Regions from separate parts of the Homo sapiens genome. Here region 2 is linked to region 1. Evidence: fine-mapped expression QTL. Tissue or cell type: whole blood. Region 1 holds a variant in brackets; the other region holds the start of a gene. All regions are shown on one strand. Distances are from middle to middle. Region 1 overlaps NAMPT (nicotinamide phosphoribosyltransferase). Region 2 holds the start of NAMPT (nicotinamide phosphoribosyltransferase).

The links.
Region 2: NAMPT starts here. The variant in region 1 is fine-mapped to the expression of NAMPT in whole blood (TOPMed, PIP above 0.99).

Annotation. Positions count from the first base shown.
Region 1 is chr7:106,260,184-106,265,570 of GRCh38, forward strand. NAMPT (nicotinamide phosphoribosyltransferase) reads right to left here. Exons shown (of 11, transcript NM_005746.3): 7 at 3,209-3,434; 8 at 1,405-1,524. Among named protein-coding and RNA genes, the nearest start is that of NAMPT, 22 kb to the right of the region's middle. RefSeq lists enhancers at 1-343, 344-868. The variant T/C (reference allele first, on the strand shown) is at 3,275.
Region 2 is chr7:106,282,498-106,287,884 of GRCh38, forward strand. It overlaps NAMPT (nicotinamide phosphoribosyltransferase), which reads right to left and starts at 2,486. Exons shown (of 11, transcript NM_005746.3): 1 at 2,331-2,486. The coding sequence starts at 2,387. It overlaps NAMPT-AS1 (NAMPT antisense RNA 1), which reads left to right and starts at 2,749. Exons shown (of 1, transcript NR_186647.1): 1 at 2,749-3,829. RefSeq lists silencers at 1,816-2,175, 2,446-2,985.

The sequences.
Region 1 (5,387 bases):
CTGTTTCCTCTACACTGACAATCTGTTTAGTCACCTGCATCAATGATCTTAGCTAGATCTTCTGGGTAACTTGCAGCAGCTTCTACATCAGCACTTGCTGCTTCATTCTGCACTCATGGAGATGGCTTCTTTCCCTAAACCACAGGAACCAACCTCTGCTAGCTTCCAATTTTTCTTCTGCAGCTTCATCACCTCTCTTAGGCTTCACAGAATTGAAACGAGGGCCTTGCTCTGGATTAGGCTTTAGCCTAAGGAAATGTTGTGGTTGCTTTGATCTTCTATTCAGACCATTCAAACTTTCTCCCTAGCAGCAATAAAGCTGTTTCACTTTCTTATTCATATGCTTAGTGGAGTAGCACTTTGATTTTTCTTCAAGAACTTTTCCTTTGCATTCACAACTTGGCCTACTGTTTGCCTTAAGAGGCCTATTTTAGCTTTCAGCATGCCTTCCTCACTAAACTTAATCATGTCTAGGTTTTGATTTAAAATGAGAGGGATGTGACTTTTCCATTCACTTGAATACTCAGAGGCCACTGTGGGGTTATTAATTGACCTAATTTAAATACTGTTGTGTCTCAGGGCATAGGGAAACTTGAAGTGAGCAGAGAAAGGGAATGGGTAACTGGTGAAGGAGTCACAACACACACAGTATTTATCAATTAAGTTCACTGCCTTATCTGGGTGTGCCCTGTGGTGCCCTAAAACAATCACAGTAGTAACATCGAAGATCACTAATCACAGATCACCATAACAGATATAATGACAAAGTCTGAAATATTGTGAGAATTTACCAGTATGTGTCACACAGACATGAAGTGAATACATGTTGGAAAAATAGCACCAACAGACTTGCTCAACACAGGGTGGCCACAACCTTCAATTTGTAAAAAAATGCAATGTTTGCAAAGCACAATAAAATGAGGTACGCCTGCATAACACTTATACTATCTGGCTAAATCTAATACTGATGACAGTCAATGCTTAATTTAGAAGAGGTGGCAGCTATTCTATAATTTCTGAAAAAGCACCCATTAATATTATGAGTTTTACAGATTTGTGAAGCTCCAGTCTATGAAAACTCAGACCTATGCCAGCAGAGTCAAGGCTTTGTTTTATATTCCAAGGAATATTTCTTGACTGACATTTCCTTGTTTCACAATGATACTTCTTTAGATTCATCATTCAGGGTGGCCAATGACAACTGGAAGAGTAAGTATGGCTTGGCTGGCACCTCTGTATTTTAAACTACTATTATTTCTAAACTTTAAGCAATGCACAGAGATTTATACCAACATAAACACTTACAAAGACTTAAAATTGTATTTATATTGTGTTCTTTATCAAACATAAACAAACTTAATTATAAGAAATGCCTTATTGAAACTTTTAATATAAAACACATACCTCTTGTAAGGTATTAATATCTACTCCATCCCCTTGAATAACTCTAAGATAAGGTGGCAGCAACTTGTAACCCTTTGAGTTCTCAGTAACAGGAAACTTCTTACCTAAAATCTCCAAAACCTATATGGAAAAATACACATGCAACACAAATAACTAAAGCTGAAAACAAGTATAAGAGCTTTTCAAAGTTAAATGATTTTGCTTTGATAATCGAGAATATAAAAATTAACTACTTTAAAAATTTTATAACACTATGTATATGCTCTCTAAAATTTGGTCCAGTGTACTTTAAAGGGTTAAAGTACATTAAAAACAAGCATGTTATTTCCTATGAAGTGAATTCACATCATAAAGTGGCTCAAAACAAGTTTTTCCCCTTAGACCTTTCAAATTATATGGATTCAAGGAAAAAAAAATCCTTAATATTAAATAAGTATATTTTAAAGAAGTATATAAAGCATTATTTAACAAACTCATGATTATACTTTTAATTTGGACTTATTCTGCTTGTGCCCAATGACTTTGGTTTTTGTCTGATATATAACTCCAATATGAATCCAGTTCAATCACAAAGTTCAGAGAAACTGTGAAAGGCAGACACAGCATCTAGAACCCATAGTCTCTAAGTTCTCCTTTGCTCTTAAAGCCAAACTGCACAATACACAAATCATCTTACTCATTCACTAACTACTAAAAGTTTTGTACACCAAATTAAAATTTCTCAGAAAGCTTGGTCATATAAACAAAAGAAATACATTCTCTTCCCACAACAATCATTTCTTTTTCCTAAATAAACTGATTAAAGATTCTAACAAAGAGAAAATTCCCCATTGATGAAATCAGTTTCTCATAACTAGCTGTGTACATTTTTTATTACGTAACAGTAAAAACATGAAACCTATCAAGTTTGCTAAAACCAAATATTGCAGGCTAAGACAAGACTTTCAGATTGGCCTATCATTTAATAGAATAAGAAAAGACCTCCTTAATTCTGTTTCCCTTTCTTAAGGGGTAAGTATCATCTGCTCATTAACTGACAAATGGTGTGGTCAAGTAGCAAGGCTGCAGCCAAAAGACCTACACTGGATATCTGACTCCTTATCTTTCATGTTGTGTGACCTTGAGCAAGTTACTTTAACCTTTTTAAGCCTCTGTTTTTTTCTTCTATAACAGAGACAGTAATATTTATCACTGTTTTTTTTTGTAGAGATTAAATGGCGTATCTTATGTAAATCACCTAAAATATTTTTCTAGTAGTAGGCATCAAATAAGCCTGCTATTACTACTTTTTGAAGAAGATAAACCAAGTCCTTGAACATTAACAACAAAAAGTAACACTGCTACATTATGAATCAACAGTATTTCTAAAGAACCTCCACTTGAAGAGTATTTTTGAATTATTTTTATTCCACATCACCCTGTTCCTATTTCTTCTGTGCTAACAACTTCAAAGGTCTAGCAGTGACTTATGCTGAAAAAGAAACAAACTGCAAATAAGTTTGGTGCCCAAATCATAGGATTAATTAAAATGGCAATGCTGTTAATTAATTTTGCAGGTAAGCAGAAAACAAAATATCTATTCAAATGTCTAATTGACAGTAAAACAATCCATAAGTCTTGGTATCCTTCTGTGCTATTACTGTGTGACCTCAGGCAAATCTATTACTCTCTCTGGGCTGCAACTCTAAAATAAAGGGGACTGGTCCACACAGCTCTGAAATTGTGTGTATATAAATGAAAAGTAGTATTGATGCAGCTGGCCTACAGAGGGATTCTAATAATAAAGTTACATATGAAAATTTACCTTTAACACAGTGTCAAGAGGGTTTCCAGAATCAGGTCTGATTATTAGTGGTGCCTGTGTACTTCT[T/C]GATACTATTAAATGTCTTAGATCTTCACCCCATATTTTCTCACACGCATTATAAATGTCATAGCTATCGCTGACCACAGATACAGGCACTGATGAAAACTGTGTTACAATATGTTCAAAAGCATCTTTTTCATGGTCTTTCCCCCAAGCTGTTATGGTACTAGAAAAAAAAATGAAAACACAGATTTACTTAGGCAGACACTTGATCTATCCCTGAATCACCTTTAATCATATCTCATGTTTACTATACCAAACCATCAACATCACAGAGAAGGTGAGTGACTTAGTTTAATGAATATACATCGTAAGGCAAATGAAGTAGCTGGGTCAACCATACCTTACCCAATTAGTTTTTAACGCTTTAAGTAGCCTTACTCCTCTTCAATGGTTAAGTTTCTAACCTCGTATTTTCAACCAATTATCTGTGTGTGTGTGTGTTTTCTGGTATTCCTGAATCTACTCATTTAAAATCAGTCTAACTAAAAAGCACTTGCTGAGTGCCCTTTATACTGTATGTCAAGATGTTAGAATGAATACATATTTCCATTATTTTGTTAGGCAATGAGAGCACCTGGCTCCCTTCTGTGAATTTTTGAAACTATATACCAATAATAGTACAGACATACATTTTGTTTTTTTACCTTTCAAAATCTTATACTTAGAGGCAATTATTTATACTATACCATACATACATATAGTCAACTACCTGTTATATTTTCAAGTGGCTAGTAATAGGAAGTCATGTATTTTGTTTGCAGATTATCTACTACGAATTAATATATGCCCAGGGAATAAGAATTCAAATACTTAGTTTAAGCAAAACATAATTAAGATGGAAAATAAAGTATGAGAGTTTCTATTGGATAAGAATGGTTATAGTGATTTTTGCAATGTCCTTAATATCAGTTCTTACGGGATAGATTTGTATTCAATATGTAATTATAGATTGGGTATCGCTTATTTGAAATGCTTGGGACCAGAAGTATTCTGAATTTCAAATTTTTTCAGATTTTGGAATATGTGCATTATACTTATCAGTTAAGCATCCCCAGTTCTGAAATCTGAAATCCAGTTCTGAAATCTGAAATGCTCCAATGAGCATTTCCTTTGAGCAAAAAGTTTCAGATTTTGGAGCATTTTGGATTTGGGATGCTCAACCTGTGTAAATATTTGTTAATATATAATGTAAATAATTTTAAAAGATCTCAAACAACTTAATTTTGAAAATTACCATTTAATTATGCCAAGCAATTGGTCATTCTCCCTAATTTTCTAGTCCGCCTCTAATCTGTTCTCCTCAGTAAATAATAAAAAGATAGCACATTCATTTATTATAAAGCCCAAGTAGGTATAAGTTTAACTCATAACTGTTTGAAGAGTCAGACTTTATGTCTGAAATAATCACTTTATACAATGTGTGTGTGTGTTTTTTTTTTTAAAGGACTAGACTTAGAACCTTTCCCCATACTGTCAATGGTATACCTGGGGTAGTGCAGCATGCACATTTCAAGATTGTAAAGACTACTACCCGAATCCAAAATTGAGAGAGAACCTGTTTATATAAAACTCATTAGTGAACACTCTTCTTAACAGCTACAGAGGCTGCCAGTAGCTATGATGTCAATTCTCTACTTCATGCATCTGTAGGCTAAATGGAAAATTAAGATATGACTGAAGAGAAGCTCCTCTTCATATTCAGGTCTGCAACTTTTCTCTTTAAAAAGGAGAGAATTAAGATCAATGAATACCAATACTGGAGAACTTTACAACGTATGAATTAACTCCTACAGTTAAGGGGTCACTACTTATAACGTTGTATCAGTAAGTCACCTAACGATCTACTTGTATCATGTCTAGCAAACTTCACTGTCCCCATCTTACTTGCTTTCTCCATGACACCTGAATTTTCCTGATGCTTTCTTTCTCTTGACTTCAATGACATCTCCCATGTTTCACCTTTTTTCCCCTATTTCTATGGTTCCCTTTTCAGTCTTCCCAGATGCTGTGCTCTCCTTCTTTAATCTAACCTGTCAGATGGCAATATTTCTCATAGTTCTGACTTAGGCACTTGTCTTCTGTAACATACCTTGTGTGAAACACTCAAAAGCTTAAA
Region 2 (5,387 bases), 22 kb after region 1:
CCTTACTTCTAACAAGAACCACGATGAAAATAGAGGAACCACAGTCGTCAGTGTCCTTAATTCCTTACTATATACAATAAAGTATGAGTTTACAGAAGTGAATGTATATACTTCAAATGCTCCTTTGGTCCAAATAGTTCTGGACTCTCTTGACAGGATACAAGACAAAACAAAACTCCCATTGTCATGTGCTTGCTACCATACCATCTACTTGCAAAATAACTTTCGTAGTGCTTAGGCAATCAATTATTCTTTCTTCAGTTTTAGAAAGAAGAAATCAACAATATTTTGCTCTCTTCATCAACACATCTGAAACTACTAGAGTTCCCAACTTTGGCCAATAGTTTGTAAGCACTGATAAGGATATGTAACATTCTCGTGTAATTTCTAAATAAGTTTCATTACTTCTAACCTCAAGATTATCATTTTTGTCCTTTTTCCTAAGATAAAAAGACAAAAATGTAAAATAGGTTATAAGGACCCCTAAAAACATAAGGGAAATGAAACCTAAGACTTAAATGTGACTGTGGAATACACAATCTATTTTAGCATACTGCGGTAAGCCACTGGTATAAAACATATCGACTTGATTGAACCCTCTAGAGGTGACTTTTGGGGAAAAAATGAAAAATCTAAGATGAAAATATTCTGAAGTTTCATATTATAAAGGATATAAAACACACCAGTCTGACTTGAAAGTTGACAGAAGTAAAATTTATTAAATAGGTGCAAATTCTAATAGTGCAATTAAGTATGGCTCACTAGATTAGAAACCTTTAAGATAATTCACTATTCTAACTAAAAGCACCCCAGAAAACTGATGTTAAAGTAATTTTACATTCCTTATGTATAATGGTTAGAGGAACTGCAAACTAAAGGAAGTTGCATTCTTCTGTTTTTAAAATTTAGACTATTCAACCTCCCTTTACATTTGGCTAACATGTAAAAAAAAAATCTGACAGTTATTTTAGATTTAGTTAAGAAAAAAATTCTACAAAACTATCAATGAGGCTATTCTAAAATCACTATTTAAAATTTTGAAAACACTATGATTGAACCAAGAGAACACAAGAGGAGGTTTTAGGACCAAGTAAAGGACCATACTTGAGGTATTATCACGTATACTTGACAATATTCAAGAATCATACTTGATAGTGTTCGGATTTTGCAATACTTTAAACTTGCATCTAAAAGACAACTTGTTGATGGATCTTGGCTCGATTTCAAGAACCTATCTAAATATCATAAACAGCATTTTAAGCTGATTGGAAAAAAACAGACAAAACTTAAGTAAAATGGAATTCTCTAAAATACTTTCTCGGAATATCGGAGGAGGGCTAAAAACAAAGGAAAAAAAAAGAATCAAAACAAAAACATGAGAGTACTATGTTTTACCACTGTATTCCAAACCACTATGCTGCTCAAGTAAAATTTACTTTACCTCTTCCCTTCACTACTGCGTGCTTCATATCAACTGAATGTGGCAGCTACCCACACAAGTGTTCAATGGGCATGTGAACGCAACGCTGTGCCATTTCCCTCTCCACATGTTCTCTAGGGTTAAAACTACAGTTCCTTTAAATCCTCGTGTTTCATTTTCCTTTTCACAGAAATCCTGTAATGACCCTAAAGCAGATAAGAGCAGAGCGGCCTCTACACCCAGGGATAAGGAGCACGAGCAATCACTAGGTGCCAAGGAGTTTGAAACGGAGCCCGGCGGAGTGGGACAGGGGAATCCACTACGGCTACCGGGGCCAGGCGAGTGTCCTCCGCGCCGGAGCCGCAGAGGACCGCGGCTGCTCCGGCGCCCGCGCCAGGACTTCTCCCACCTCGCGCCCCGGGAGACTTACCTGCCCAGCCAGGGGCGAGCGCGCCGGGCTGGCCCGGGGGAAAGCCCCGCTCACTCTCCACTGCGGGTCCCCGGGGCCGTTACCTAACTGGTCCCAGCTCCAGGCCAAGAGGCCGCGCTTCAGGGAAGGGCATGCGCTCGCCGGCGACGCCCAAGCCCCGAGCCCCGAGCCCCGAGCACCGGCGCCCGGGAGTCCGCTGGGGCCCGCCTCAGCCCCCCGCCGCGCCGCCGCCGCCGCGCGCCCCCAGGCCCCGCCTCCACCGCCCAGCCCTCCATCCTCCTCAAGCCACCTCCTGCCCACTGCGGCGCCTCCTCACCTGCCCCAGCCGCCGCCGCCCGCGCCTCCCCCGGGCCTCCCCGCGCCGCGACCCTAGCCCCAGCCCCAGCCCCAACCCCAGCCCCAGCCGCCCCCGCCCCCCTGCCGCGCGCTCGTCCCCAGCGCGCCCCGCTCCTCCTCATCTGCCCGGGCCCCGAGCTTTACCTTGTAGGAGTCGGTGGCCAGGAGGATGTTGAACTCGGCTTCTGCCGCAGGATTCATCTCGGGCCGGAGGACAGGGGCCGCGCGCCGCGAGCTCCCTGGCGCGGCTGCGAGGAAGGAGAAAAATGAGCTTCACCGCGCTCCGTTGCTTAAGTCACTGCTCGGTCGGCGGAGGAGGGGGAGAGGGGGAAACGGAGAGAGGGGAGGGGTCAGAGGAGGGCGGGCCCGGGAGCCGTGACGCGGCGCGGGTGACGGCTGCGGCGGCTCGCGTGCTCGCAGTCTGGGAGCTCTGGCGGACTCCCCACCTCGGTTCCCCCGCCTTCACCCCGTCACCCTCCGGGGGCCGAGAAAGGGCGGGGCGCGGCAGCGCGCTGCGCAGTGCGCGGAGGCGGGGCGGGGAGGAGGACGTGATGCACGCGCTCTTCCTCCCAGACGCCAGCTCTGGGAAGCTGGAGGCAGCGGGGCAGCCCCGGCGCGTGACCCGGGCGCTTACCTAAGTTCGAGTTCCCGGCACGGGCGCGGGAGGGCGGGGCCTGGAGGGGGCGTTCCCAGCTTTGCCAGTGCCACGAGGAGCCGGTTCGCCCGCCCCGCCTGGGACCTTCCGTCCTACCCAGTCCTGGCCGGTTTTCTGGGTCCTCCTGAAGTCACGCCACCCGGCTAGGGGGCGAGGAGCCTCCTACTGCCCATCTTCCCGTCCACCACGCGCAGTTACTCACCTTTGTCTCCGGCCTGGATTAAGGATCCAGCCTTTCGCCTCCATCCCTCTTGTCCCTCCTGATCCTCCTGACCCTGTCTTTAAGATCCCAGGAGCTGCGGTGAGGAGTGAGGCTGAGGGGCCCCTTTCATCTGATGCAGCGACTCCGCTTTCCTCCGGCGGCTCTGTCTATGGCTGAGCTCTTTGATCCTTTGAGAGATGGTTTGACTTTTCCCGAGCAAAGAGCCTGCGTTGAAAAGCGGGGGTGGAATTCAGTCCTCACAGATAATGAGGGGACAAGACCTAATTGAACCGAGTATTGCCGGGAAGGAAAAGGCAACGGGCCAAGCCTTTGACAGGGTGCGACACTGACTTTTATCATCGTTATAGTCTTTAAATCCTGGGAAACGAGTTGGCAACCCCAAAATAAAGAAGTGTAATGACGTCTGATGACTTCACCCAAATACAGACCATTCCAAGAAAGACTTGCGCAGTTCTCATGCGTGGTTGCGTTTTTGCATAAAACTAAGATTCCCTTTGTCCGCATGTTTAATAGCTTAAAAATAAATTGAGGTTTTTATCGGATAAAAGTAGCCAGGAAAAAGTGATACAGTGAAAACGATTACAGGATATTTATAGACTTGTCTTTCAAGTTATTAGAAGTCTCATTCTATCTGGGGGCAGTGATGGTGGTGGTGGTAGTGGAACTTGTGAATTGAGATTCATAGTGGAACTTGTGAATTGAGATTCATCTCGAAACTGGAGGCATGGCTGAGACTTCTAATAAAGACAACCTCAGTCAACACTATGTCTTGAAGTCAGTATATATTTTTGACAATCACCTCATCTACACGTAGATACAATACAGGGCAAAGATCATGGAAGTGGAAGGTATCACCAGGCACTCACCAATGTAGTAAATACTAGTACACTTACAATTATTTTCAGCAACGAGGTTTGAAACAAGAGGGCTTATGTATTTATTGGTTGATCTTCCCTGTGTTTTACCGGGGAAAATTATTTGTAAACGCATTTAAACAAATTATTATTTCTATTTTGAGACGGAGTCTCGCTCTGTCGCCCAGGCTGGAGTGCAGTGGCTGGATCTCGGCTCACTGCAAGCTCCGCCTCCCTGGTTCACGCCATCCTCCTGCCTCAGTCTCCCAAGCAGCTGGGACTACAGGCGCCCGCCACCACGCCCGGCTAATTTTTTGTATTTTTAGTAGAGATGGGGTTTCACCGTCTTAGCCAGGATGGTCTCGATCTCCTGACCTCGTGATCCTCCCGCCTCGGCCTCCCAAAGTGCTGGGATTACAGACGTGAGCCACCGCGCCCGGCCTAAACAAATTATTTTTTAATATTTGATTTTGGGAGTTTTTTTATATTATTTCAAGGAGTGCAATTCAAAGAAGGAAAAAGATAATTTTTGTCCTTAATTTGGTGTTTTTTCCTTCATTTAAAATTTATATAACCTACTTTACTTATAGTACAAATTCTTATTTGTTTAGCTTCCTGGAATTCATGTATCTATAAATGACCGTTGTTCTATGCTGCTTTATGCAGAAAAGAAAGTAGGATTCTGATTATAATGTGGGCTTTGTTTATGGTAGTATTTTTTTAAGATGCAAAATTTGATCTTGCAATCTTTGAGTTGAATTTGCAGTTTTAAAATAAAAAGGTCTTATATCTGTGCAAAGAAAAAATATTGTATTGACATTGCTTGTTAAATTAAGGAGTGAGGCCTGCACAAGTATTAGTAATGTGAATCCTCACAGTAGTCTCCAGAGAAAAAAAATGACAATGAAGTCATGTTACCAATAGGACAATCACCATTTGCCTGAGATAGAAATAGGCACATTCTCTATGTAACTACATGCTTAAGCTGGAGCAATTCAGAATTAATTGGGGTTTAGAACTATGAAATTATCACTGAAAACAGAGCCAAGATTTCATTTTAAAATGGCCTCCCCTGAAAGACAGTTTAACAGCTAGCATTAAGGTTGGACGTGGTGGCTCACACCTGTAATCCCAGCACTTTGGGAGGCTGAGGCGGGCTGATCACTTGAGCCCAGGATTTTGAGACCAGCCTGGGCAACATGGTGAAAACCCATCTCTACAAAAAATACAAAAATTAGCTGGACGTGGTGGCATGTGCCTGTAGTCCCAGCTTCTCTGAAAGGAGACTGACGTGGGAGGATTGCCTGAGCCCGGGGAGGTTGTAGCATGTAGAGGACCTGAGAAACTGTTTTTCATAGGTCACAACAACATGACAAATAATAACACATAGACTCAAATGGGCCCCCTCACTTGATTCAAAGCCCTGGATTATTATACCATCCTACCAAATAGCAATCAGGCACTGCCAA